Linked DNA regions of Homo sapiens: all the other regions are linked to region 5. The links come from fine-mapping of genetic effects on gene expression. A gene starts in region 5. Each other region holds a variant in brackets. All regions are shown on one strand. Distances are from middle to middle.

Evidence for each region.
Region 1: its variant is fine-mapped to the expression of MIER2 in thyroid (GTEx, PIP above 0.99).
Region 2: its variant is fine-mapped to the expression of MIER2 in whole blood (INTERVAL, PIP above 0.99).
Region 3: its variant is fine-mapped to the expression of MIER2 in whole blood (INTERVAL, PIP above 0.99).
Region 4: its variant is fine-mapped to the expression of MIER2 in sun-exposed skin (GTEx, PIP 0.97).
Region 6: its variant is fine-mapped to the expression of MIER2 in nasal epithelium (TOPMed, PIP 0.91).

The regions. Positions count from the first base shown.
Region 1 is chr19:399,297-404,163 of GRCh38, reverse strand. No RefSeq gene overlaps it. Among named protein-coding and RNA genes, the nearest start is that of C2CD4C, 7.4 kb to the left of the region's middle. The variant G/A (reference allele first, on the strand shown) is at 2,734.
Region 2 is chr19:243,277-248,143 of GRCh38, reverse strand. LOC101928344 (a long non-coding RNA gene) reads left to right here and starts at 1,619. Exons shown (of 13, transcript XR_002958438.2): 1 at 1,619-1,747. LOC107985295 (a long non-coding RNA gene) reads left to right here and starts at 2,813. Exons shown (of 2, transcript XR_001753827.2): 1 at 2,813-4,867. The variant A/G (reference allele first, on the strand shown) is at 2,801.
Region 3 is chr19:303,059-307,925 of GRCh38, reverse strand. It overlaps MIER2 (MIER family member 2), which reads left to right. Exons shown (of 14, transcript NM_017550.3): 13 at 390-807; 14 at 1,215-2,353. The coding sequence ends at 1,236. LOC124904605 reads left to right here and starts at 3,565. Exons shown (of 2, transcript XM_047439789.1): 1 at 3,565-4,533; 2 at 4,600-4,867. The coding sequence starts at 3,565. The variant A/G (reference allele first, on the strand shown) is at 2,925.
Region 4 is chr19:284,547-288,546 of GRCh38, reverse strand. It overlaps PLPP2 (phospholipid phosphatase 2), which reads left to right. Exons shown (of 6, transcript NM_003712.4): 2 at 376-527; 3 at 796-1,073. Among named protein-coding and RNA genes, the nearest start is that of PLPP2, 4.9 kb to the left of the region's middle. RefSeq lists enhancers at 421-920, 921-1,422. The variant G/A (reference allele first, on the strand shown) is at 2,116.
Region 5 is chr19:342,385-347,251 of GRCh38, reverse strand. MIER2 (MIER family member 2) reads left to right here and starts at 2,456. Exons shown (of 14, transcript NM_017550.3): 1 at 2,456-2,478. The coding sequence starts at 2,470. RefSeq lists silencers at 2,112-2,561, 2,632-2,681, 2,982-3,091 and an enhancer at 3,400-4,351.
Region 6 is chr19:308,799-313,665 of GRCh38, reverse strand. MIER2 (MIER family member 2) reads left to right here. Exons shown (of 14, transcript NM_017550.3): 8 at 23-174; 9 at 1,394-1,475; 10 at 1,727-1,821; 11 at 4,741-4,865. Among named protein-coding and RNA genes, the nearest start is that of PLPP2, 20 kb to the right of the region's middle. The variant T/C (reference allele first, on the strand shown) is at 2,629.

The DNA of each region.
Region 1 (4,867 bases), 57 kb before region 5:
CCCCCCCACACCCCTCAGGGCAGGACCCCGTCCCCCCCACACCCCTCAGGGCAGGACCCCGTCCCCCCCTCAGACCCCTCGGGGCAGGACCCCGTCCCCCCCACACCCCTCAGGGCAGGACCCCGTCCCCCCCACACCCCTCAGGGCAGGACCCCGTCCCCCCCTCACACCCCTCGGGGCAGGACCCGTCCCTGTGCTCTCAGCCCAGGCTGGGCTGCTCTGTCTCTCCTGCTGCCCATGGGGTCCAGATGTCTCTGCCATCTCAAATCCACCAGGAGCTTTTGGGAATTGGGGTTCAGCGTAGCCCGGCCTCCTGACCGCGGCCTGGTGAGCCCCAGTCAGGGCCTGGGACGGGTTGACAGGGCTACGGGCGCCTTGTAGCCTCTTCAGCCCCAGCCACTCATCGCTAGGCTGCACGGGTGTGTGCGTGTGCGTGCCAGGTAGGTGCACACACGTCGCCATGTGCTTCCGCATGTGTGTGCAGTGTGACTGCGTGTGCCGTTACCGTGCTCATCTGTTGGGCGTATGTGACAGTGCCAGGTGAGCGCCTGCAGGCACTCGAGTATAGCTGCCTGTGTGCTGGCGTGTGCACGTGTAAGCACGTGAGCCGTGTATGCATGTGTGACCCTGTGTGCGCTTGTGTGTGCCTGTGTCGCTGCTGGTGTGCACTTGTGTGTGCGTTTGTGTGTGCTGGTGTCTGGGAGCTGCAGCTGCCCATGCCCTCCCCCCTCCACTTCCAAGTGGGCGTCATCCAGGGATTCTGCGCCTGCGTGGTGTCTCGCCCTGCCTCAGGTCTTGGCCCACTGCCCTTCAGGTCAGCCCCCACCCCGGGGGAGTCAGATGCCCTTGTTCCCTCCTGGCTGTGGCCGTTTGCTGCCTTGTGATGTTGATCCTGAGCAGAACGAATCTACTGTTTGCACCTCCAGCATCCCTGGCGCCACAGAGCGCTCGGCCCCAGTGGGTGCTGTGCGGTGAAGGAGGCAGGCACACCTGCCAGCAGTCTCTCCTTTCAGACTGGCGGCCATCCTGAGTCTCCCGACCCTCAGGAAGGCCATGGGCACCACAAGCGGGGGGCACCCCGTTTGGTGCAAATTACAAAAAGATGCCCCTTCTTCAGAGGGGAGCCATCATAGGGAACAACAGATGAAGAGTCAGAAGCCTGGAGACATTGCGGACACCTGGATCCAGCTATGCCTGAAGTCCATAACTGCGCACCATTTCAGCTCAGAGGGTGGGCCGGTAAAGTGCCTTGTTTGCTCAAGCCGGCTTGTTTCAGTTTTTTTGTTTTGTTTTGTTTGTTTGTTTTTTGGAGACGGAGTCTTGCTGTGTCGCCCAGGCTGGAGTACAGAGGTGCAGTCTCGGCTCACTGTAGCCTCTTCTTCCAGGGTTCAAGCGATTCTCCTGCCCCAGCCTCCCAAATAGCTGAGATTACAGGCGCCCGCCACCACACCCAGCTAGTTTTTTGTATTTTTAGTAGAGACGGGGTTTCACCAAGTTGGCCAGGCTCGTCTCAAATTCCTGACCTCAGGTGATACGCCTGCCTCGGCCTCCCAAAGTGCTGGGATTACAGGCGTCAGCCACCACGTCCGGCTGATTCATTTTTTAAGGTGACAGAACACTGATCCAGTGGGTCTCTCCCATCCGAGGAGGAGGAGTAACACCTTCCCAGGGCCCCTGCCTTGCGGCCTGTCCTCTCTGGGGCCTTGAACCTCTAACCCTGACGTGTGTGGGGAGCCGCAGGGTGAGTTTCAAGCCCCACCTTCCACGTGGGGTGTGGCCCGGGGCAGTGCGTGGCTTCTCTGGGTCTCAGGCTCCCGAGGCCGAAGGCTCTGTCTGTGATGAGCCCTGGCGGCTTGTGTGCAGTAGAGCTCAATCCACAGGCTCGCCGGGCGGAAGCCGGCACAAAATAGCGACGATAATTAATATAATCACATCAGGGCCATAATTACAGGCGGCCTCAGACCCACCCAGGCGGGGGCTCCCTCGGCCTCTCTCTGCGGCACCCACCGCCCCAGTGCCGGATTCGATTAAGCTTTTGTTTTCTTCTCAGCTCCTGGGGGTGGGAGGGAGGGGCTGCCCACGGCCAGTTCCGCTGACAGGAGGAGAAAAATGACTTCAATAAAAAGGAGGAGGCGGACGCCGACCCGCACACATGCTCCTCCCACGAGGGCGGGCCATTCCCGCGGGCCGGCGCCTGAGCCTCAGTTTACCCTACTGTACAGTGACGTGGTCCCAGAGCCTCTCTCCAGGGTCACACGCAGGGCAGGGCCTGTTGATTAAGCGCATCGTGGGTGGGTGGGCGGGAGGACCCGCTGAATCCTCAGCAAGACGCTGCCTACTGCCATCCACAGATGGAAACACCGAGGCACAGAAGGCAAAGGGGCCTGCGCACACCTCCCAGCTGACAGGACAGGAATTCGGACCAGGGCTGGACCCACGCTGCCCTTCCTGGGTGGGACTGGACACCTGCTTGCATGGCCGGCCCCTGCCATCTGGCAGAGAGGGCCCCAGGGAGCTGTGCTCTGCCAGCCATGGGTCAGAATCCTGACAAGTCCCTCCGTTCTCTGTGACTCGGTTTCCTCTGCAGCACCCTGTACCCTCCCTGCCTGCTGGTGGGGCTGGAGTGGGCACGGACCCAGCACCCGTGGCACCCAGTCCTGGTCACCGGCTGAGCCCTGCTGCGGTGCCACGGATGAGACCCGCACCTTCCCCCGTGGGGTGAGGAATCCTCTC[G/A]TGCGGGGTGAGGTCTGGGCTTTGCCTTGGCTTTGGGAGGTGATTTCTGCCCTGCCTGAGGGGAGCGTCTTGGTCTGGGGTAGGGAGGGTCACACCAGCAAGACCAACCGTGGGACTTGGGAGCGCCTTGGGTCTCACAGCGTCAGACACCCTTGGAGTTCGAGGGCAACCCCGTGGCAAGCAATCAGTCAATCAAGCCCCCACGAGGGATCCCTCGCAGAGCTCTGGGCGCCTAGGCTGCCGTGCCCTTTCCTGGTGGTCCGTGCGCCCTGTGAGTGAGCAGTTCCCGGCTTCCCCGGACAGGACCACGGGGCTTCTCCGGGACGCTGCCTCATGTGCTCTTCCCCAGCCCACGGCACCTGCACCCCGGCACTGTGACAAACCCTACCTGTGACGAGGACAGCTTGCTGGGAGTTCCGTGCGTCCTCGCAAATCATCAAGCGTGAGGGTGAGCCTGGGAACCCCTGGAAGAGTGAGGGTGAGCCTGGGAACCCCTGGAAGAGTGAGGGTGGGCCTGGGGACCCCTGGAAGAGTGAGGGTGGGCCTGGGAACCCTGGAAGAGTGAGGGTGGGCCTGGGAACCCTGGAAGAGTGAGGGTGGGCCTGGGAACCGCTGGAAGAGTGAGGGTGGGCCTGGGGACCCCTGGAAGAGTGAGGGTGGGCCTGGGGACCCCTGGAAGAGTGAGGGTGGGCCTGGGAACCCTGGAAGAGTGAGGGTGGGCCTGGGAACCCCTGCAAGAGTGAGGGTGGGCCTGGGAACCCCTGCAAGAGTGAGGGTGGGCCTGGGAACCCTGGAAGAGTGAGGGTGGGCCTGGGAACCCTGGAAGAGTGAGGGTGGGCCTGGGAACCCTGGAAGAGTGAGGGTGGGCCTGGGGACCCCTGGAAGAGTGAGGGTGGGCCTGGGGACCCCTGGAAGAGTGAGGGTGGGCCTGGGGACCCCTGGAAGAGTGAGGGTGGGCCTGGGAACCCCTGCAAGAGTGAGGGTGGGCCTGGGAACCCCTGGAAGAGTGAGGGTGGGCCTGGGGACCCCTGGAAGAGTGAGGGTGGGCCTGGGAACCCTGGAAGAGTGAGGGTGGGCCTGGGAACCCTGGAAGAGTGAGGGTGGGCCTGGGGACCCCTGGAAGAGTGAGGGTGGGCCTGGGGACCCCTGGAAGAGTGAGGGTGGGCCTGGGGACCCCTGGAAGAGTGAGGGTGGGCCTGGGAACCCCTGCAAGAGTGAGGGTGGGCCTGGGAACCCCTGGAAGAGTGAGGGTGGGCCTGGGGACCCCTGGAAGAGTGAGGGTGGGCCTGGGAACCCTGGAAGAGTGAGGGTGGGCCTGGGAACCCTGGAAGAGTGAGGGTGGGCCTGGGAACCCTGGAAGAGTGAGGGTGGGCCTGGGAACCCTGGAAGAGTGAGGGTGGGCCTGGGAACCCTGGAAGAGTGAGGGTGGGCCTGGGAACCCTGGAAGAGTGAGGGTGGGCCTGGGGACCCCTGGAAGAGTGAGGGTGGGCCTGGGGACCCCTGGAAGAGTGAGGGTGGGCCTGGGGACCCCTGGAAGAGTGAGGGTGGGCCTGGGAACCCCTGCAAGAGTGAGGGTGGGCCTGGGAACCCCTGGAAGAGTGAGGGTGGGCCTGGGGACCCCTGGAAGAGTGAGGGTGGGCCTGGGAACCCTGGAAGAGTGAGAGTGGGCCTGGGAACCCTGGAAGAGTGAGGGTGGGCCTGGGAACCCTGGAAGAGTGAGGGTGGGCCTGGGGACCCCTGCAAGAGTGAGGGTGGGCCTGGGAACCCCTGGGCTGCCGTTGGGGCTGGAACGGGGGCACTGTTGTTGGGACACTGCCCTCTGACCTTTCAGCGTGGTTCACTCCAATCCCCGGGCCACAGAGTCCTCGTGGCCTCCCTGGGAGTGTGCACCTGCCCGGCCGTGGAGACACATGACCCTTGCCCCCAAGCTCCCCTCTCACCTCCCTAACCCCTTTGCCTGTGGCCCAGGCGGCTCAGAGGCACCCCCCCGCCCACCAGCCACTGTGTCCCCACCCTCCCCTCCCACCTGGGCTCCCCCAGCCAAGCCACAGAATGCTCCTTCCTCATCTCCCAAAGTCACGGGGACAGCTCAGATCAAGGACTGCAGCTCCCACACTGCCAGCCCCTCCCCCTC
Region 2 (4,867 bases), 99 kb after region 5:
TTAGGAGGGAGAAGAGGTACCTACGCAGAAACACCCTAGAACTTCTCTTAAGATGCCCCAATCATCATTCACTCTGCAATAAAAATGTCAGAATATTGCTAGCTACATGCTGATAAGAAGGACAAAGGGGACATTCCTAAGAGAAACCTGGCACCATAAGTACAGATTAGGGCAGAGAAAGACATTCAAAAGAGGCAGGTGCAGTAGATACAAACGTGACTGCTGTCAGCCTGCCTGGGATGGCAGGAAGGAGGTTGGTGCCAGAGTGGATTCAGATTCATCACCCCACGTGTACCTCAATCAACAGGAGGTCCCACAAGCCTAAGTGGGGCAAGTCAGGGACCTAAGGCAGTAGCAGGAAAACCAAGGAAAACAAGCATAGACTTGAGACAGAGGCAGGAATGTGAAGAAGTCCAAAATAAAATTCCCTGCACAGGACTCTTAGGCTGTTTTCATGCACTATGAACCCACTCCTCCCTATTTTCCTACAATAAGCTCTTTACACTGTATTTCTTTTCAATGAAGTTATCTTCCATCTTTGTACTGCCTCTTGGTGAAAATCTTTCTTCCAAGTTAATAACTGGGACATCAGCTCTCCCCAGTAATAGCTCCTTTTCAGTTTTAATTTACAGAACTGATGGGGATTAATAACTGGCGCTCTGACTTTAAGTGGTGCAGGAGGCGGCCAGTAGGGGACGCCAGCCGTCACACCGGGAGCAAGAGGGCCCTGCCTAGTCCCCATCTGCCTGCAGGTGGCGTGCAGCCACGACAGTGTCAGCAAGAGGGCCCGGCAGTGTCCCTAGCTGCCAGCAGGGGGCGAACGACGACTACACTGTGAGCAAGAGGGCCCTGCAGTGTCCTTAGCTGCCAGGAGGTGGCGTAGGGGCACCACACCATGAGCAAGAGGACCGTGAAGTGCCCTGGTTGCCAGCAGGGGGCGTGCTGCCACTACACTGTGAGCAAGAGGATCCTGTAGTGCCCCCAGCGGACAGAAGAGGGCATGCCCCGACTACACTGCAAGCAAGAGGGCCCAGCAGTGTCCCCAGCTGCCAGCAGGCGGGTGTGCTGCCACTACAATGTGAGCAAGAGGGCCCTGCAATGTCCCTAGCTGCCAGCAGGCGGCGTGCCGCCAGTATACTGCGAGCAAGAGAGCCCTGCCGTGCCCCGGCACCGGCAGGGGGCGCTGGACACCACTGTAAGGAAGAGGGCCCTGCAGTTGCCCTAGTCGCCAGCAGGGGGCGCAATGGCACAGCACCGTGGGCAAGCGGGTCCTGTAGTGCCCGGGTACAAGCAGGGGGCACCCGAACCGGGCTTTTCAGATTACTCAGGTTCCACCCGTCTGTGCGCCGCGCCGCCGGGGACGTGTGTCTGCGCCTGCACCTCGCCATTCCCGCGCTCCCCGCCCAGCGGCGTGCGACTGTACACCTGCAACACGCCCCGCCACCCTGAGCCCAGCGACGTGCGTCTCTGCGCCTGCACCTGCGCCGCGCCTCACTCCCGCCCGCCCAGAGACCCCTCCCCTCCGGGGACGCGGAGGCGTGCGTCTATGCCCTGCGCCGCGTCTCCCGAACAGCGCCTGCGCGGGCGCGCCGCGCCTGCCTGCGCCGGCGCCGGCGCGCCGTGCCTTTGCGAGAGCGGAGTTGGGTTCTCCTCAGCACAGACGCGGAGAGCATCGCGAGGGCGGAGCTGCGTTCTCATCTGCACAGATTTCAGTGGTACTGCGAAGGCGGAGCAGAGTTCTCCTCAGGTCAGACCCGGGCGGGCGGGCTGAGGGCACCGCGAGGGCGGAGCTGCGTTCTGCTTAGCACAGACCTGGGGGACACCGTAAAGGTGGAGCAGCATTCTCCTAAGCACAGACGTTGGGGGCACTGCCTGGCTTTGGGACAACTCGGGGCCGCATCGACGGTGAATTAAATCTTTCCCGGTTGCAGCCGTGAATAATCAAGGGCAGAGACCAGTTAGAACGGTTCAGTGTGGAAAACGGGAAACCAAAAGCCCCTCTGAATCCTGCGCACCGAGATTCTCCCAAGGCAAGGCGAGGGGCTGCATTGCAGGGTCCAGTTGCAGCGTTGGAATACAAATGCAGCATTCCTAAGGCACACATGACACCCAAAATATAACACCCACATTGCTCATGTGGTTTAGGGTTAGGGTGAGGGTTAGGGGTTAGGGGTTAGGGTTAGGGGATTAGGGGTTAGGGGTTAGGGTTGGGGTTGGGGTTGGAGTAGGGTTAGGGTTAGGGGTTAGGGTTAGGGGTTAGGGTTAGGGTTCGGGTTCGGGCTAGGGGTAGGGTTAGGGTTAGGGGTTAGGGTTTAGGGTTAGGGGTCGGGGTCAGGGTCAGGGTCAGGGTCAGGGGTTGGGGTTGGGGTTGGGTTTAGGGTTGGGGTTATGGGGTTAGGGGTTAGGGTTAGGGATAGGGGTTAGGGGTTAAGGTTAGGGTTAGGGTTAGGGGTTAGGGTTAGGAGTTAGGGGTTAGGGTTAGGTTTAGGGGCTAGGGTCAGGTTTGGGTTAGGGTTGGGTTAGGGTTAGGGTTGGGTTAGGGTTAGGGTTTGGGTTAGGATTAGGGTTAGGGGTTAGGGTTAGGATTAGGGGTTAGAGTTAGGGTTACGGTACTGTAAATAATTTTATATTATTACTAATAATAAATTATTATTTGTATTACACTGTTACATAATGTAAACCCTATTAAGACATGTTTTTCTTCAAAGAATGGCCTTGGTTTCTGTGGGCTGTGCCTCCTCATGGAAGGGTAATGCATTCCTGCTAAATCATGGACAAAACGGGCTTCCAGGAGCTACAG[A/G]CTGCAGCAGCAGCTTCTCCTCTACGTCCTTCACTGCCTCAAACTGTTGTTGACTTTGAAAGCTTCTTTCAGTCTAGTTTTATCAACAGAGCTAGTATTTCATGAGGTTCTACTACATACCAGGTTCCAGAAAGCTAAATGCCTTTTGTTTGTTATTATTCACTAAATACAAATCACAACTCTCTCCTCATTACTCACACAACAAAATTTAGCTGAGGGAGATTGAGTGACTTTCCCAGGGTCACATAGCTACTAAGAGCAGAGTCGTGTTCAGATTCATGTGGGAATATTGAACACAGAAATGAACCAGTGGAAACATCCTATGTTCCAAAAGCCTACTCAAGGCCTTTCTTCTTATTTTAAGGAAAATCTTTATGCTAATTTTAAACTCCAAATACTTATGAATGGCAGAGATCTACAGATTTGATTCTGATGTAAGAAATGATGGTCACCAGCCAGTTACTGCTACCACCCCACAACCCCGAGCATACTGGACGAATGTCTAAGCCTTGTGGTTAGTGGGGACAATGCTGGTGGAGTCTGAAGTTGTCATGCAGTGACTCATGCAAGCTTAGGCAGATTTGGTGATATATGACACAGAGATGCAAAGAAATGTTGTAGCTGACACACACAGGCTGGCTCTGGGAGATGCAGAAGGAGCACGTCACCCAAAATAGAGCCAGACAAGACATCCTTAAGGAAGGAGCAAAAGGGCTGCATCTTAAAGAATGTAGAAAGGATTTGTCATGAGAGATGGGGCAGGAAGTTCTTGAGAGGCAGAGGGAGAGCATGAGAATGTTAGGAAGGGAGGAGAGATTCTCACACATCTGGGAAGCTGACAATCCATCAGCATGGCCAGAAGGAAAATGAGGAGGAGCAGAAATAGATGAGGCTGGATATAGAAGCAGGGCTGAAGCGGTGTTGATTGTGGTAAAGAGTTGTGATTCTATCCAGAACTCAATAGGTAGCATTCTAAACAGAGATCTTTTAAACAAGAGTCAGCAAGTATTTTCTGCAAGGGGCTAAATGTTAAATATTTTAAGTTTTCCAAGCCATATGGTCTCTCTCTCAATGACTCAGCTCTTCCATTATACCATGAAAATAGCCAGAGACATTATGTAACACATGTATTGGCTGTGTCCCATTACAACTTTACTTACAAACGCAGACTGTGTCAGACATGGTCCATGCATGGTAGTTTGCCACACCCTGTTTTAGAAAGCTCAGGTTTATGATGTGATGGAGAATGCCTACAAGAGCTCTTGTTTTAAATGGTAGAGTGAACATACACTGGAATTCTATCCTGCTTGACCCAAGCTCTTGATAGCGAAAGGTAGAAAAGATAGATGGTAAATAGATAGATAGATGATAGATAAAGAAAATACATAGCTGTTCCAGAAAACAGAAATGGATAACTTCATGAACCAAAAGCAGAGTAATATACTTTAGAAAGGAAGCGGGCCGGAAAACCCACAGTTGCAAAACAAATAGAATTTCCAACTGCCTCTTGTAGCCCCTTCCTGGAAGTAGTCACAGCCCAGGGTGTTCGACTTCTTCCTCTGTTTTTTGTTTGTTTGTTGTTTGCTTTTCTGTGGGGTTTTTGTTGTTGTTGTTTGCTTTTAAAAAAAAATTCCCTTTCCCTGCTTTTTTGTCACAGCAGCCTTTGTCACTTCAAACACCGCAAGTGTTCTTTAAAAAAAATTATATCAACCTTTCAATTAAAATGCAACATGTCTGAAACTTGGTATCTGGAGAGGTGAGTTGGACAAAGGAGCCCTTGTTACTGCACGTTTTCATTCTTCAAATTTCACCTTGCACACAGTAACAGACAGTGCACAAAGCTACTTCCTTATGGACGGAAATTCTGAAATCCTTTTATGCCTGGCCTTTCCATCCTTCAACTTCCCCTCTCCCACGCTGTGAATGATTGTATTGGACATTTTTGTTTTAATGTCAGTGACAGGGGAACACAGGTAGCTCTAATATAGCTGTGACCCAGATGCTTCTGTTTCTAGCATGTATTTATTTTGCAGCAAACATTTACATCCATGATGTTTCACTGTCTTT
Region 3 (4,867 bases), 39 kb after region 5:
TGGGAACAAAACTTCCAAAGACCCTGTATTAGCCCTCGCAGCGCCCCCGGCATTGTTTACACCTAAGTCTGTGTATTCCACAGACCCTGTATTTACCCTCTGCAGTGCCCCCGGCATTGTTTACACCTATGTCTATTGTATTCTGCTCTTTTTAAAGATGTGGGTTGTGACCCACTGTTGGTCTGATGAACTAAAATCTACTTCTAAAGCTGAGACCCTTAACCTGGGGCTCGCGGATTTCAGTGTAACTGGTGTCTTTTGTATTTGTGTGGAGGCTTTTCTGGGGAGGGATCCACAGGCTTTGCTGGACCCAGCAAAGTTAGGCAGGAGCCTGCACAGGATCCGCGGCTGTGGGCAGGCCCCACCCTCTGTTGCGTTCTCTTTCACAGATCCACTGAGCGTGGATGGCACGGCCGGTGGTCTCGATGAGCCCGGAGTGGCCTCTGATGGACTCCCGTCCTCGGAGCCAGGGCCGTGTTCCTTCCAGCAGCTGGATGAGTCCCCCGCTGTACCCCTGTCCCATCGGCCCCCAGCCCTGGCCGACCCAGCCTCATACCAGCCAGCTGTCACTGCTCCGGAGCCAGACGCCAGCCCAAGGCTGGCCGTGGACTTCGCCCTGCCCAAGGAGCTGCCCCTCATCTCCAGCCATGTGGACCTCAGCGGGGATCCGGAGGAGACTGTGGCCCCAGCACAGGTGGCTTTGTCGGTCACCGAGTTTGGACTCATCGGCATTGGGGACGTGAACCCCTTCCTGGCCGCCCACCCCACGTGCCCGGCCCCCGGGCTACACTCGGAGCCCCTGTCACAGTGAGTGCCACCCCATGCCCGGAGCCTCCGCAACACTCCAACCAGGTCCCCCCAGCCCTCAGGCTGAGCAGAGGAGGGTGGGAGGCATTTGCCCCAAGGACCCGAGGACAGTGTGGCTCCACGAGCAGGCTCTCAGTGTGTCTTTAGGTTTATTCTTTACTTGTATGTATTTTTTGACTGGAGAATACATTCATGTGGTCCACATTCTCCACAAATGGGAGCAGGTGCCAGGCTGTCCCACCCCTGCTCCAGCCACCAGCTCCCCTCAGGGCACCCCGGGCCCGGCTGCCATAGGCTGTGGGGGAGGCAAGGCTGGGAGTCTCGAGTCCAGCGCTCAGCACTGGGCTGTGCAGGCACGTGGGGCCGCACTGACACTCTCTGCGTCTCTCTTGGTCTCTCCCCTGCAGCTGTAACGTGATGACCTGCTGACTCCTGGCCGCGGGCGGCGTATGCGGCCCAGACTGGACTTAGCGCTGCCGCTGGGCCCGCCTCTGTCAGTCTTCCTGACCCCTTCCCCACCCCCCGGGCCTTGGGGTAGCACCTCCTTCTGCTTCAGAACACGTCAGGACTGGGGTGAGGTGGCTGGGCCGTGAGCCCTTGCCCCTGTCCACACAGAATGGACCCACGGCCCCACCCAGCGCCGTCAGCGCCCGGCACTGCCACCCGGGTCCGGGCCGCTGCCTGCACGTGGGATCCGTCGGGCAGCCGGGGACAGAAGAGACCCCGCCGTTGGGACGCAGGGCAGAGCCGGCCACCTAGTCCCTTCCAGCCAGCAGAGGCGAGGGAAGGCGTCACTGCCCCGGCGGGGAGACGGGCAGGACGCCCTGCCCCGCACCAGCAGCCTCCGCCGGGGCGCCCTCAGCTCCCTGCTTGGCTCTGTCTCTCCACACCCGGCAGGGCCGCGGGCTGCCCCAGCCCTGGGGGTCGTGGGCAGCTGCTACTCAGTGCCAACCCCGTGGGGCACAGAGCCATATACCTCGCTGTCCGGCCCCCACCCCAGCCTCGCCTTCCCACCCCATCGTCTCCACTTCAGGAAAAGCCGCACTTTACACCCCCACCTGCCTCTTCCCCCTCCATCCCTGCTCCCCGATCCTGAGCGGTTGGGGTGGGGTCCCTCAGCAACCCCAGGCGTGGGTTTGAGGAGACAGGTGATTTACATCCCCTTTGCTGTCCTCCCCCGGTACCAAGGCAGGGAGCCTCCGGAGGAGCCGGCCCTGCTGGCCACGCAGGGGCCAGACTCCAGCCTGTTTCCCCAGCCCTGCAGGTCTTCCTTCTGTGGGAAGCTTCCTAGCAAGATGGCTTGGAGTCCTGGTCCCCCTCCTCCCTGGCCCTCTCGTTCGTTTCTGTTTCTGTTTACACGTTGGAGTGGGGTCCTCCGTGGGCGGCGGCGCGCCCTGCCCCGGGTGTCGTCCGGCCTCTTGTGCTCGAGCCCCTTTCCGAGTTGGACTCGACCATCCCTCACCCCACCAAGGACCACACTGTGAAGTGATAACTGCCTTGAACCCCCCTTTGCTGTTTTATTTATTAAACTTGATTTGAAGCCCGGGGTGCCTTGTGGTGGATCGGGTGGGGGCTGGGGCGGCAGGTGTCCTCGTCATCTCACTTGGGGGCCTGCATGTCTCTTGGAGGGTCCAGGATAAGTCGTGAGCAACACGGGCGAGGGGGTGCACCGGGGGCATGACGTGGTGGGCTACGTATTGTTCACGTCAGTAAGGGAATTGTGGCCACGATGACGGGATGTGAGGAGGGCCCACGTCTGGGTAGAGGTGGTCGGGGCAGCCTCCTAGAAGTGATATTTAAGCTGAAACATGAAGGAGAATGGGCCTCCTTTGCTGAAAGTTTGCCGAGAGGCCTGGCAGGCGTGACAGCAGATGCAGAGGACAGAGGCCTGGGTCTCCAGGAGAAGCTGAGGGCACAGAGGGCAGAGGTTGGGCGGGGTGGGGACAGTAGGTCATGAGGCCAAGTTTTGTTCTTGGTGTGGAAGCCACTTTAGGTCTGCATTGTTTTTTTGTTTTGTTTTGCTTTTTTTTTTTAGACAGGGTCTCACACTGTCGCCAGGCTGGAGTGCAGTGGTGCGATCTCGGCTCACTGCAACCTCCGCCTCCTGAGTTCACGCG[A/G]TTCTCCTGCCTCAGCCTCCCGAGTAGCTGGGATTACAGGCGCCCGCCACCTGGGATTACGGGCGCCCGCCACCATGCCCAGCTACTTTTTATATTTTTTGTAGAGATGGGGTTTCTCCTTATTGCCCAGGATGGTCTCTATCTCTTGACCTTGTGTTCTCCCGCCTCGGCCTCCCAAAGTGCTGGGATTACAGGCGTGAGACATCGCGCCCGGCTGAGGTCTGCATTGTTAATAGCGCCCTGCAGGGACGGTGCAGGCTGGTTGGGTTGCATATTGTCCACATCAGTGAGGGAAATGTGGGCATGCATGGTGATGGGATATGGGGAGGGCCGGCCCCCAGCTGGGAGGTGACTGTGGCTTGGCCTCAGGGACTATTGGTGAAGGACCAGGACCACTTGCATGATGGGTGTGGGAGAGTCAGGGGTCTTGCTGGTGAGCCTGTGCCAGGAGCTGTGAGAACCAGGGCCAGCCACTCGGCAACCTGGGTGTTTGGGGATGGGCATAGAGGAGTTTTCATTGGAGCGCCGCAGCCTGCTGACGTTTTCTTCAGATGTGCAAGGTCTTCTGTCTTCCAGCTTGCCCTGCCTCCAGCAGGAAATCTTCAGTCCTCTCTTGGTTTTTTTCCTCCAACTGCTTTGAAGATTTTTCAGTACCACTGGTTTTGAGCAGTCTGATGAGGATGTGCTTTGGTGTATTGAGGTGTCTGATGAGGGTGTGCTTTGGTGTATTGAGGAGTCTGATGAGAATGTGCTTTGGTGTATTGAGGTGTCTGATGAGGATGTGCTTTGGTGTATTGAGTCTGATGAGGATGTGCTTTGGTGTATTGAGTCTGATGAGGATGTGCTTTGGTGTATTGAGGTGTCTGATGAGAATGTGCTTTGGTGTATTGAGTCTGATGAGGATGTGCTTTGGTGTATTGAGGTGACTGATGAGAATGTGCTTTGGTGTATTGAGGTGTCTGATGAGGGTGTGCTTTGGTGTATTGAGGTGTCTGATGAGGATGTGCTTTGGTGTATTGAGGAGTCTGATGAGGATGTGCTTTGGTGTATTGAGTCCGATGAGGATGTGCTTTGGTGTATTGAGGTGTCTGATGAGAATGTGCTTTGGTGTATTGAGTCTGATGAGAATGTGCTTTGGTGTATTGAGTCTGATGAGGATGTGCTTTGGTGTATTGAGGTGTCTGATGAGAATGTGCTTTGGTGTATTGAGTCTGATGAGGATGTGCTTTGGTGTATTGAGGAGTCTGATGAGGATGTGCTTTGGTGTATTGAGTCTGATGAGGATGTGCTTTGGTGTATTGAGGTGTCTGATGAGAATGTGCTTTGGTGTATTGAGTCTGATGAGAATGTGCTTTGGTGTATTGAGTCTGATGAGGATGTGCTTTGGTGTATTGAGGTGTCTGATGAGAATGTGCTTTGGTGTATTGAGGAGTCTGATGAGGATGTGCTTTGGTGTATTGATGAGGATGTGCTTTGGTGTATTGAGGTGTCTGATGAGGATGTGCTTTGGTGTATTGAGTCTGATGAGAATGTGCTTTGGTGTATTGAGTCTGATGAGAATGTGCTTTGGTGTATTGAGTCTGATGAGGATGTGCTTTGGTGTATTGAGGTGTCTGATGAGAATGTGCTTTGGTGTATTGAGGTGTCTGATGAGGGTGTGCTTTGGTGTATTGAGGAGTCTGATGAGGATGTGCTTTGGTGTATTGAGTCTGATGAGGATGTGCTTTGGTGTATTGAGGTGTCTGATGAGGATGTGCTTTGGTGTATTGAGTCTGATGAGGATGTGCTTTGGTGTATTGAGTCTGAAGAGGATGTGCTGTGGTGTATTGAGGTGTCTGATGAGGATGTACTTTGGTGTATTGAGGTGTCTGATGAGGATGTGCTTTGGTGTATTGAGGAGTCTGATGAGGATGTGCTTTGGTGTATTGAGTCTGATGAGGATG
Region 4 (4,000 bases), 58 kb after region 5:
ATGCTGGAGGATCGCTCCAGCCCAGGAGTTTGTGACCAGCCTGGTCAACATGAGACCCCTGTCTCTACTTTTAAAAATTTAAAAAAAAAAGATATTTTGGGCAGAGAGAAGTGGCTGTGCAAAGGTGGGTGTTTGCTGAGTTAGTTCAAGGAGCAGAAAGGAGGCTGCCAGGATGTGAGGGGCAGAGCGCCTGAGGAGTTTGTGTTTGTCTGAGGGGATGCGAAAGGGAGTGTTATTTGGGCTGTGAAAAAAGCTCTTCCTTGCTGTCTGGTGAGAGTAGAGGTGGGAGGCCTCCAGGCCAAGGCAGGTGTGTGGGGCCCCAAGGCCCAGCTGGTGAGAGAACCTCACAGCTCCCAGGCTTTTCTTCCCCACCAGCCTCCCTGCCCTTCGCTATCCTGACGCTGGTGAACGCCCCGTACAAGCGAGGATTTTACTGCGGGGATGACTCCATCCGGTACCCCTACCGTCCAGATACCATCACCCACGGGCTCATGGCTGGGGTCACCATCACGGCCACCGTCATCCTTGTAAGGCAGGAGGGGCTCAGAGGGACTGGGTAGGGGGATGGGGTGGGGCCAGCTTTACCCTGGGGGCCTGATGGGGGGGTGGCACAGCCCTGCCCTGGAGGTCTGTGTGGGGCCGGGGGACACAGCCTTGCCCTGAGTGGTACCTGTGGGTAATAGGGCCCCCTTCAGAGTCCCCAGCTCTCCAGCAGCCTTGGGGAGGCCCGTGCGGAGGAGTGAGGGCCCCTGGGCCGACCGAGACCCCCACTGGTTCCTGCGGCTGCTCTTGCAGGTCTCGGCCGGGGAAGCCTACCTGGTGTACACAGACCGGCTCTATTCTCGCTCGGACTTCAACAACTACGTGGCTGCTGTATACAAGGTGCTGGGGACCTTCCTGTTTGGGGCTGCCGTGAGCCAGTCTCTGACAGACCTGGCCAAGTACATGATTGGGCGTCTGAGGCCCAACTTCCTAGCCGTCTGCGACCCCGACTGGAGCCGGGTCAACTGCTCGGTCTATGTGCAGCTGGAGAAGGTGTGCAGGGGAAACCCTGCTGATGTCACCGAGGCCAGGTGGGTGTGGACCAGCAGCCTTCACTCTTGTGGGGAATGGGAGCTGAAGAAGGCCCTGGAGCCAAATCATGAAGAGCCAGCAGGCAGCTGAGACTACAGGCGTGCGCCACCACGCCCGGCTAATTTTTGTATAAGTTAGTGCATTCTTGTATGTTTTTGAAGTTCATCCATGTTGTAACATTCTGTCAGTTTTTGCTTTAAGTATTTTGGGGTTCTGTTGTTTAGTACATTTACCTTTGTAATTGTTATATATTTTTGAAAGATTGACCATTTCATCATCATAGAATGAGATATATGAGTTTTGTCTCAACAATTTTTGTCTTGATGTCTGTTTTGTCTGATATTAACATAGCTATTCTGGTTCTCTTTTTGTTATTGTTTGCATGGAATATTTTTTTTTTCCATTCTTGGACTTTCAACCTGTTTATGTCTCTGACTGTAAAGTAAGTGTCTTATACCTAGCATGAAATTGGGCCATGTTTCTTAATGTATTGTCCAATCTCTGATTTTTTTTGAGACAGAGGCTCACTCTGTCACCCAGGCTGGAGTGCAATGATCTGAGCTCACTGCAGCCTCGGACTCCCAGGCTCAAGCCATCTTCCCACCTGAGCCTCCCGAGTAGCTAGGACTACAGGAACGTGCCACCACATCCAGCTACTGTTTATTTTTTTTTTGGTAGAAACGGGGTTTTGCCATATTGCCCAGGCTGGTCTTGAACTCCTGAGCTCAAGCGATCCGCCCACTTTGGCCTCCTAAAGTGCTGGGATTACAGGTGTATGCCACCACATCCAGCCAGATCTCTGACTTTTTTTTTAATGTTTTTTAAATTATATATTAATCTTTTTATTGAATTAAGGCATTTAATGAAACTTTGACTTTTAATTGGAGTGTTTATTTATATTCAATGTAATTACTGATAAGGAAGGACCTCTGTCATTTCGTTGAGGTTTGCTTAGGTTATATCTTCTTTTTTCAATTCCTCATTACTGTCTTTTTTTGTTTGTTTGTTTTGCTTTTAATTTTTTTTTTCTTTTAGAGATGG[G/A]GGTCTTGCTATCTTGCCCAGGACTTGAACTCCTGGGCTCAAACCATCCTCCCACCTCTGCCTTCCAAGTAGCTGGTACTACGGGCATACACCACCAAATCCAGCTGGTTTTTAAATTTTTTTGTAGAAATAGGGTCTCACCATGTTGCCCAGGCTGGTCTCGAATGCCTGGGCTCAAGCAATCCTCTCGCCTCAGCCTCCCAAAGTGCTGGGATTAGAGGTGTGAGCCACTGAGCCCGTTCAGGGTAAATAATCTTTTTTTTTTTTCTTTTTTTTTTTTGAGACAGAGTCTGGGCCCAGGCTGGAGTGCGGTGGTGCAATCTTGGCTCACTGCAACCTCCATCTCCTGGGTTCAAGTGCTTCTCCTGCCTCAGCCTCCCCAGTAGCTGGGATTACAGGTGTGCGCCACCACGCCCGGCTAATTTTTGTATTTTCATTTACTTTTATTAATTTTATTTTTTGAGACAGAATGTTGTTCTGTCACCCAGGCTGGAGTGCAGTGTGCAGTGGTGTGATCTTGGCTCACTGCAACCTCTGCCTCCTGGGTTCAAGCGATTCTCCTACCTCAGATTCCTGAGTAGCTAGGACTACAGGCGTGCACCACCACGCCCGACTAACTTTTTGTATTTTTAGTAGAGATGGGGTTTCATCATGTTGGCCAGGCTGGTCTCGAACTCCTGATCTCAGGTGATCCACCCACCCTGGCCTCCCAAAGTGCTGGGATTACAGGCGTGAGCCACCATGCCTGGCCAGGCTGAATAATCTTTTTTTTTTTTCTTTTTTTCGGCCAGGCTGAATAATGTTTTTTTTCTCCTTTTCTTTTTTTTTTTTTTGAGAAAGAGTCTCACTGTGTCGCCCAGGCTGGAGTGCGGTGACGTGATCTTGTCTCACTACAGCCTCTGCCTCCTCGGTTTAAGCAATTCTCCTGCCTCAGCCTCCTGAGTAGCAGGCGTGAGCCACCACACCTGGCCCCAGCCGAATAATCTTTTTTTTTTTCTTTGAAACGAAGTCTCTCTCTTGTCCCCCAGGCTGGAGAGCAGTGGCACGATCTCGGCTCACTGTAACCTCTGCCTCCCGGGTTCAAGAGATTCTCTGCCTCAGCCTGCCGAGTAACTGGGATTACAAGTGTGTACCACTATGCCCAGCTAATTTTTTGTATTAAGTAGAGACGGGGTTTCACCATGTTGGCTAGGCTGGTCTCGAACTCCTGACCTCAGGTGATCCACCCGCCTCGGCCTCCCAAAGTGCTGGGATTACAGGCTGAGCCACCGTGCCAGGCCAAATAATCTTAATTGACCTATTTTCTTTGTTTTTTTGAGTTGGAGTCTTGCTCTGTCTCCCAGGCTGGAGTGCAGTGGCATAATCTCAGCTCACTGCAACCTCTGCCTCCTGGGTTCAAGCGATTCTCCTGCCTCAGCCTCACGAGTAGCTGGGATTACAGGCGTGTGCCTCTGCGCCCAGCTAATTTTTGTATTTTTAGTAGAGACGGGGTTTCGCCATGTTGGCCAGGCTGGTCTCGAACTCCCGACCTTTGTGATCTGCCCGTCTCTGCCTCCCAAAGTGCTGGGATGACAGGTGTGAGCCGCTGTGCCCGGCCAATTGACCTATTTTCAAGTTCATTGTCTTTTTTCTTCTGCTTCCTCAGACCTGCTATTGAGCCTCCCTCAAGTGATTTTTCATTTCAGATAACCAAATCTTTATTTGGTTCCTTTTTATAACTTCTTTCTCTTTATTGATATTCTCTGTTTGGTGAGACATTGTTCTCATATTCCTTTGGCTCTTTGAACATAGTATTTATTTATTTTTACTTTTTTCTTTGAACATATTTTAAATGGCTAACTAAAAGTGTTTGTCTAGAACCCAGGCTTGGTGGCACACAACTGTT
Region 5 (4,867 bases):
CAGCTCACTGCAACCTCCGCCTCTCGGGTTCAAGTGATTCTCCTGCCTCAGCCTCCTGAGCAGCTGGGATTACAGGCACCCGCCACCACGCCCCATTGTGGCATTAACATTTCTGAAGAATACAGTCCCTCTTTTGTTTAACAGAATATTCCTTATTTGGGTTTGTCTGAAATTTCCTCATATGTAGATATGGGTTGTGCATTGCTGGCTGGATTCAGTGATGCCGTGTCCTGCTTTGGACACCACATCCAGGTGCACATGGTGTGCACCTGCCCTTTACCAGGGATGCTGAGTTTTATCACCCACCCAACAAGTGGCTTCATTTCTCCACTGCGACTAACAGTCTACGGAGACAGACTTTCAGACCTTAAAATATCCTTCACTCTTTTTTTTTTTTTTTTTTGAGACAGGTCTCACTCTGTTGCCCAGGCTGGGGTGCAGTGGCACAATCACTGCTTACCGCAGCCTCGACCTCCTGGGCTCAAGAGATCCTCCCACTTCGGCCTCCAGAGTAGCTGGGACTACAGGCACATTATCGTCATGCCCTCTAATGTTTAAAGTTTTTTTTTTTTTTTTTTGAAACAGTGTCTCACTCTGTTTCCCAGGCTGGAGTGCAGTGATCTTAGCTCACTGCAACCTCTGCCTTCCCAGGTTCAAGTGATTCTCTTGCCTTAGCCTCCACAGAATAGCTGGGATTATGGGCACTCGCCACCACGCCCGGATAATTTTTGTATTTTTAGTAGAGACAGGGTTTCACCCTGTTGCCCAGGCTGGTCTCAAACTCCTGACCTCAAGTGATCCTCCTGCCTCTGCCTCCCCAAGTGTTAGGATTAGAGGTGTGAGTCACCGTTCCAAGCCACAATACCCTTCTCTTCACCCAAGTCCTCATTTGACATCTATGTGATGATTCTTGCCAAGCCCTCTCCTAAGAGTCTTCCCTCGTTTTGCCAGGTGGACTCAAGCCCTTGTCTTCGGGCCCCTCCACCTGTTACAGCACAGCACCTCACTCTCTTATCTGTTCATGCTTCTCCCTGCTTCACAGGACCTCTGGCTACCCAGCACCCAGTTGAGGACTGCATAAGATATGTGTTTAGTTCACTGAATGACTGAATGAATAATAACAAATGAATAATAAAGGAAGGAACCAACTCTTGCACAAATCAGTGAGGACTCTTCAACACGAGGGCCAGAACCCTCAATCTCAATGATGTAAACCAAAAAAGGAGTGAGGGTAGACCCCTCCAGAGTGGTTCTTCTATCTCTTGGTTGGTGAATTCTCAGAGGACTGAGTAATGATTTTGCATCAGGAATCAAGGCTGATGCATGTCAAGTTCTCACTATTCATTGGCTGATCACTGGGAAACAGGAATGAGACTCATTCTCTTCTTCCTGGTCCCCAATTCCCTTCCTCCTGGTCCCCAATTCCCTTCTTCCTGGTCTCCAGTTCTCTTCTTCCTGGTCTCAGTAGGAACCGCCCTCCACTCATTTGCGCAAGCCAGACATCTGGAGGCCATCCTTCACTCTCTCCAGCTTCCCTCCATCAGCGAGTCTTGTGGTGTCCACCTTCTCAAGTCTCTCTGCACTCTGGTCCAGGCCCCACAGCTCCCACCTGGCCCCTGCCTCTTCACGCCCCACCCCTGCTTCCTATCCTCTCTCTGCATCGTGCGCCCCGAAGATTCACGGCACTTATCCGTCTCAAATTTAAGGTGTGGCGAGTCCTTGCCTTCCCATCCTCCACTCTAAACGCCCTGAAGACAGGCGTTAGGGCTGTCTCCTTCAAACCCTCAGGATCAGAACGTGCACGTGTTCCAGAAATGTTCAATCTGCGAAACGACGGACTGCAGAACCAAATGGCCCTGGGGTCAAGCCCACCTCCCTGCCTCCCGCCTTGGGCTCTCCGGCGCGGGGCCACCGTTTCTAAAACCTCTCCGACTGGTGCGCGTTCGCAAGCTCCCCGATTGGTTCCTCCGCGCGCTAGTTTGCTCATCACGGGTGCGAAAGTGCAGAAAATTCCAGAACCACGCAGCCCGGACACCAATTCTGGCTCTATCACTGACACTCTGGGTGGCCCGTCGCCCTGGGCCTCAGTTTCCTAGTCTGCCACGCGGGGTATTAACAGCGAGCAGCCGAGGGAATGAAGAGGTCACACAGGACCACGTGGTCCCCACGCAGGTGTGATTATCAGGAATTCGTATTTTTATGGAATGCAGTCTCCTCCGCCAAGGCCAAGGCCAAGATCAGGGTCCAGCAGAGACGGCCGGAAAGACACCGCAAGCTCGCCAGAAGCCGCCGGCCACGCTCGGCTGCGCGCCCGCGCCCGCGCCCGCGCACCTACTACGCGCCCGGCCCGCTCTCCGCCCCCTCCAGGCTCCGCCCCCTGCCCCGCCCTCCAGGCTCCACAGCCAATGAGTGCGCGGCCCCTCATCCGGGGATCCCGGCGCGGCCACCGCCTCCCGCGCACACACGGCCATGGCGGAGGTGAGTGAGCGGGCCGGGGGAGCCGGCCCCCCGCCCCCGCGCGTCCGCGCCCCCCGCCGCCGTGGCTCGGCCTCGTCGTGGGCCCCAGGGACGGAGAGCCCCGCTCTGGAGCTCTGAGGCCGGCCGGGGCGCCTGGCCCGTCCGGGGCCGGAGGGGCGCGGGGCTCCATCGGCGGCCGCCCCCGGCCGGCCCCCACCCCCCAACTCCCCCGGCTGCCACATCGCGGGCTGCAGTGCGCATGCGCGGCGGCGCGGGGCGGGCGGGGGCCGGGGTGGGGGAGGGGAGGGACGCGGGGCGGGGCTGGTGTCGGGGGTCCGGTGGGCGCGCGGCTCCGTTCCAGGGTCCGGCTCCGGTTCCCGGCCCCGGCCCGGGCCCCGCGGCGCGCAGGCCTCCCCTCCCGCGCCTTTGCCAACTTTGCCGAGTGCTGGGGCCGCCAGGCGCCCCGCGCTCCCCATCGGGATCCCGGTGGACCCACCGCGCCTCCGCCGCCCGCGAGCCCCCCGGCGGGGCTGGGTCAGACCCCGGGCGGGATTTGAACTCCCGACGCGGACCCGCCTGGCGCGAACTGGGCGCAGGGTGGGTGGGTCTGCCGGGGCCTAGAGAGCGTCGGGGCTGATCTCAGAAGAGTTGGACCAGCCTCTCCCGGGCACGAAGTTACTTCTGGAGCCTCCTCCCTCGTCCAGGAAACAAGCCCGGGACCCTTTATCTGAAATGTTTGGGACCAGCTATATTTTGGAATCCAGAATTTTTCCAATTTGAGGATCTGTGGGATTTTGGACTGTGATGTTTGATCAAACCCACCTAGGACTGTCTAGGATAAGACAACAGATAGCTTCGTGTCAGGTCAAACCAGGAAGGAAGAAACTTTCGCTTTTGAAGCTTTTTTTGATTTTGGAGTGGTGGATGAGCCTGTGTGGACTTGCTTTCACCTTGGAGGGCCCTGGTGAAGATGGAAAGAGATAATGTAGGTGAAGGTGCGGCGGCTGCGAGGTGCTCAGTCAGTGGGACTCAGTGCATGACTTCTGTGCGCAGAAGTTACGACAGGCGGGCAGACTCAAGAGCTGATCCTATCTCTGGGATAGAGCCCAAAGGAAAAGGTGCCCACCCAGCCAGGCACAGCCGCCTCGTGGGAAGCCGGGATTGGAACTGCGGCCTGGCCGTGGTGCCACGTTGCGTGTTTATGTCTTGGGCGTTGTGGGAGGCAGGACTGGCCATTCTCTCCCCCTGGTGACGACCTCAGGGGCAGTAACAGGCCCTGTGTTTATGCCAAAGACGGTGTAGGTGTCTCGATACTAGGCCAGACCACCGGCCAGTTCCTTCATCGAGAATTAGTTCTTCTTGAGACGCTTAGGGAGACTGAGTCCCCATGCAGATGGTGGCTGTCCTCCAGGGTCGGAGGCAGAAGCCGCGTCTCCCAGTGGCCCTGCAGCGACGTGGTGGTCGAATGAGTTGTGCTCCTGGAATCTGGGCAACACACGTGGCCTGACAGGTAGCTCTGTGTCTGGGATGGCACAAGTCAGACTCCCAAGCCAGCCTCCCCCAGAGCTGCCATGTGGCTGTTCTGCCCTGCTCTAGGCTGAGCTCCGTAAATGTGCACAGCAGCTTGTGGTCCGGCTGCTCCTGTTAACCCTGTTTTACACTTTGGGGTGGTGCCCTGTTGAGTGAATTTGATTTGATTTTCTAAGGAGGTCCCGCTCTGTCCTCGGCCTGAGGATCTGGGAGTGAATGGAGCAGACAGGGCCTCTCCTACAGGGATGCAGAGTCTGGTCAGAGAGAGACGTGGGTGGGTTAGGACCAACAAGTATGAGGTGCTGAGCGTGAGGAGCCATGGCAAGCTGTCTGACCACCGGACTTGTTCTGTGTGGTCTTGGGCAGGTTGCCCAGTGACTCAGAACTTCCTTTTCCTCATCTCTGAAATGGGAAGTTTAATGGTCACCCTTCAGAGCTAGGAGGTCTGATGAGGTCCTGCCACAACGGCTTGTACATGGAAGTTGAATCTTGTGAAGTTGACGATATTCCACTGTTTTTAACCCGTAAAAGTGGCAATTTGTAACTTTATAGCACGTGATCAGTACTAGCTACTTTATTCTGTATCAGTATCCCAGAATAATCATAAGCACCACAGTGGCAGACGGGAATGCTTCATACTTTTCTCAGGCATACTAGATTGATCTTTTAAAAACCTAAGAGCACCATCTTTTGCTCCTACCTAAAACCCTCCATGGCTTTTCATGGTCCCTGGGATAAAATGCTCCTCCTTGCTGAGTCCCACAGCCCTGTGAGGTGGTCCCCACGGATCTGCCCCCTACTCTAGGGCCCTGGGCTCCTGTTTGCTGGTGCACTCTACCCATTTGGGGGCTGCCAACGATGGTTCCACCTCGACTGAGGC
Region 6 (4,867 bases), 34 kb after region 5:
CCTTTGCCCTCTGCTTGTGCAGTCTACGAGAACGAAGACCAGCTGCTCTGGGACCCCAGCGTCCTCCCTGAGAGGGAGGTGGAGGAGTTCCTGTACAGGGCGGTGAAGCGGCGTTGGCACGAGATGGCCGGGCCTCAGCTCCCAGAGGGAGAAGCCGTGAAAGACAGTGAGCAGGTGGGGGCTGCCATGCCGGGGACAGAGGGGCTGAGGGCTGCCGTGGCGTGGGCCAGAGCTCACACCCCAGTGCCTCCAGGGGCCAGGGAGGGCAGAGGGGAGGGCAGGGGTCAGGTGTGTGGGGGCCAGGGCACTGGAACAGCTACTCAGGTCAGAAGGGGGGCCAATTAAAACCACGTATCAGGGAGGAGGTGTAGACGCCTCCGGGTATCCTGCAAGGGGATGTAGACACCCCTGATGTCACTCCCTGGATAGAGGTGTAGGTGGCCCTGACATCGCCCAGGAGGATGGTGTGGACGGCCCCTGATGCCAGTCCCTGGATAGAGGTGTAGGTGGCTCTGACATCGCCCAGGAGGGTGGTGTGGACGGCCCCTGATGCCAGTCCCTGGATAGAGGTGTAGGTGGCCCTGACATCGCCCAGGAGGGTGGTGTGGACGGCCCCTGATGTCACTCCCTGGATAGAGGTGTAGGTGGCCCTGACATCGCCCAGGAGGGTGGTGTGGACGGCCCCTGATGTCACTCCCTGGATAGAGGTGTAGGTGGCCCTGACATCGCCCAGGAGGGTGGTGTGGACGGCCCCTGATGTCACTCCCTGGATAGAGGTGTAGGTGGCCCTGACATTGCCCAGGAGGGTGGTGTGGACGGCCCCTGATGTCACTCCCTGGATAGAGGTGTAGGTGGCCCTGACATCGCCCAGGAGGGTGGTGTGGACGGCCCCTGATGTCACTCCCTGGATAGAGGTGTAGGTGGCCCTGACATCGCCCAGGAGGGTGGTGTGGACGGCCCCTGATGTCACTCCCTGGATAGAGGTGTAGGTGGCCCTGACATCGCCCAGGAGGGTGGTGTGGACGGCCCCTGATGCCAGTCCCTGGATAGAGGTGTAGGTGGCTCTGACATCGCCCAGGAGGGTGGTGTGGACGGCCCCTGATGTCACTCCCTGGATAGAGGTGTAGGTGGCCCTGACATCGCCCAGGAGGGTGGTGTGGACGGCCCCTGATGTCACTCCCTGGATAGAGGTGTAGGTGGCCCTGACATCGCCCAGGAGGGTGGTGTGGACGGCCCCTGATGTCACTCCCTGGATAGAGGTGTAGGTGGCTCTGACATCGCCCAGGAGGGTGGTGTGGACGGCCCCTGATGCCACTCGCTGGATGGTATAGACAGTTCTTGCTGTCGGCTCCTGCGCTGAGCCCATGGAAGAGCCAACATGTCCTCTCCCCAGGCGCTGTACGAGTTGGTGAAATGCAACTTCAATGTGGAGGAGGCCCTGCGAAGGCTGCGGTTCAACGTGAAGGTGATCCGAGGTGAGCAGCGGTCTGGGCCTTCCTTCCGCTGCGGCCCCGCCCTGGGCACTGCTGACCGTTCTCCCCGGCCTGGGCCTTCCTTCCGCTGCGGCCCCGCCCTGGGCGCCGCTGACCGTTCTCCCCGGCCTGGGCCTTCCTTCCGCTGCGGCCCCGCCCTGGGCGCCGCTGACTGTTCTCCCCGGCCTGGGCCTTCCTTCCGCTGCGGCCCCGCCCTGGGCACCACTGACCGTTCTCCCCGGCCGTGTTTGCAGATGGGCTCTGTGCTTGGAGTGAAGAGGAGTGCAGGAACTTTGAGCACGGCTTCCGTGTGCATGGAAAGAACTTTCACCTGATCCAGGCCAACAAGGTGCGGACTCCACTGCCAGGCTCCACCGGGGGCTTCTCGATCTGGGGAGGGGCTCAGGGTCCGCAGGCACACAGCACACGGCCGACTGGAGGCCTGGAGCCCCGTGTCCTGTGTCCGCCTCCTCACCGTGTGCCCATTGCTGTCTTCTGCATTTTTTGCTACTGACTGCTGTGGGCCCCTTTCCTGTCCCCACAAGAACAAGGCTCTGGCTTTGGGAAAGAATGTGGCAAAAGCTGAATTCTAGTAGTTGTTTCTGCCTCACATTCCACCCCAGGGCCCTGGGCACCTCATCTTCAAGTCTGTGTCCTCTGAGCAGAGCCTGCTGGCTCAGTGTCCAGCATTGGCCCCACAGCAGAACCCCTGACACCTGGAGACCAGGGGTCTCCTGGTTCCCTCCTCCAGGGACCCAGGTCCTGCCACCCGGGACAAACCCTCATGACAGGCAGGTGCTGCCAAGTGCCGGGGCCTTCTGCCCTTCCTTAGACCTTCCCCACGTCCTCTGTGGGTCTCTGCATGTCTGCAGCAGTGCCCTCTGCCCTGTGGCTTCTTGAGTGGTAACTTCCAAGCCAGCCTCTTGGCAGTCAGACATCTCTGGCTGAAAACCTTCCCATGGCTCTGACCAGTGGCTTCTCCGCCTCTGTCCACGCCCCGGTTGGGCACTGAGTCCCTTCAGGACCAGTGGGCTGTGGCCTTGTTGCCGAGCCTTGCTTCTGCCTCGTGTCCTGGGACCGTGCTCCATTTGGGGCCCGATGTCGTCCACTGAAGGGCTTGGGTGAGGAGGCACCTGCCCGGGGCTGGTTGTACGGC[T/C]CAGGACATTGCTCAGGTGACTGTGCGGTGCCGTGCGCAGCAGCGATGGACTGTCCTTGTCAGACTCCAGCACCACGTGGTGTTTTGATTGGAGACAGCGGGGCGAGGTGTGGCTGGAGTGTGGTGCTCCCAGGCTACACTTGGAGCCCCTGTCAAGTTTCTGTAGCTCCGGGCCGTGTTTCTGGAGTTGTGGGCCGTGTTTCTGGACTCCTGGCCGTGTTTCTACAGCTCCAGGCTGTGTTTCTGGACTCTGGGCCGTGTTTCTATGGACTCCGTGTTTCTGTAGCTCCGGGCTGTGTTTCTACAGCTCCGGGCCATGTTCCTATAGCTCCGGGCCGTGTTTCTATAGCTCTGGGCTGTGTTTCTGGAGCTTCGGGCTGTGTTTCTGGACTCTGGGCTGTTTCTATAGCTCCGGGCTGTGTTTCTATAGCTCCCGGCTGTGTTTCTGCAGCTCCCGGCCGTGTTTCTATAGCTCCGGGCCGTGTTTCTGCAGCTCCGGGCCGTGTTTCTATAGCTCAGGGCCGCGTTTTTGTAACTCCCGGCCGTGTTTCTGGAGCTCCGGGCAGGTCCTGGCCCAGCCGCGAGGGGCCGTGTGTAGCCAGCACACGTTGGTCAGCCTGAGCCAGTGCGTATTTCACCCTGGCCCTTCACAGAAGAGCTCCCTCGTGGCGTGCGTTTGAGGTTTGCCCTGCAGGGAGGTTGTCTCGGTCTCGCCCCCAGGCAGGACCCCACGTTGTTCTCGCAGCGGTGAGCATGGGGCATCCTCGTTCTGGGTGGCGGTGGGTTAGTTGGCCCAGAGCATGTCCAGGTGAGGGGGTCTTTTCCGCCATCACCAGCAGTGGCCACAGCCTCAAGCTCTCTGTGGGATGAGCCTCCCGGGTGGAGATGTTGGAGGTGTTGCCAGGTGTGCGCCCAGCTCTGTGCCAGGTGCCACATGGAACACACTTGCTGTGTGTCCCTTCTCGTGTCCCTGAAGCCTTGTGTGCGTGTGTGTGTGTGTCCCTTCTCGTCTCCCTGAAGCCTTGTGTGCGTGTGTGTGTGTGTCCCTTCTCGTCTCCCTGAAGCCTTGTGTGCGTGTGTGTGTCTCTTCTCGTCTCCCTGAAGCCTTGTGTGCGTGTGTGTGTGTGTCCCTTCTCGTGTCCCTGAAGCCTTGTGTGCGTGTGTGTCCCTTCTCGTCTCCCTGAAGCCTTGTGTGCGTGTGTGTGTGTGTCCCTTCTCGTCTCCCTGAAGCCTTGTGTGTGTGTGTGTGTGTCCCTTCTCGTCTCCCTGAAGCCTTGTGTGCGTGTGTGTGTGTCCCTTCTCGTGTCCCTGAAGCCTTGTGTGCGTGTGTGTGTCCCTTCTCGTCTCCCTGAAGCCTTGTGTGTGTGTGTGTGTGTGTGTCCCTTCTCGTCTCCCTGAAGCCTTGTGTGCGTGTGTGTGTCCCTTCTCGTCTCCCTGAAGCCTTGTGTGTGTGTGTGTGTGTGTCCCTTCTCGTCTCCCTGAAGCCTGTGTGCATGTGTGTTTGGCCCTTTATGTGCTACGTTGGGAATTTTGTCGGGTTCACAGAACCCATGTGTCCTTCTGCGGTGTCTTCTGTGCACTTGGGAAGCATTCGCTGGGCCCTGGAGGGATGTGTTCGGTGGGAAAGCAGGCGCCGCGGGCTTGTGCCTCTTCCTCCCGGGGAAGGGGCTCAGTCCAGGAGTCTGTGGACCCGGGGGTTGTCACTCCCACTCCCACCCCGGGCCTGTGAGAAGCAGGCAGATGAGGTGGACGCAACTGGCCCGTGGCTCATGGTCTGGGATGGGGTGGGTGAGCAGTAGACAGAGGCCTGGAGGGTACGTTTGTCTGGCTGATGCTACAGAAGGGAAAGGGGTCTCAAGCCAGGAGCTGGAGGGCTCTGAGGGGGCTTGAAACAGGAGGCAGTGCCACAGTGCTCCGAGCCCCTGTTCCCTGTGGTGGGCATAGCCTGTGGCCTGTTAGGGTCATGGGTCGGGGGGTCTTGCGTTATCTGAGAGTGGTGGGTGCTGTGCTCCTTCTGTGCTGTCCCGGGGTCCCAGGACGTCCTGGGATCGTGGTGCAGGTGCTGGGGCTGGGCAGCCGGGGACAGAGATGGCTCCTGACCCCTCCCCGCAGGTGCGCACACGGTCAGTGGGCGAGTGTGTCGAGTACTACTACCTGTGGAAGAAGTCGGAGCGCTACGACTACTTCGCCCAGCAGACGCGGCTGGGCCGGAGGAAGTACGTCCCGTCCGGAACCACGT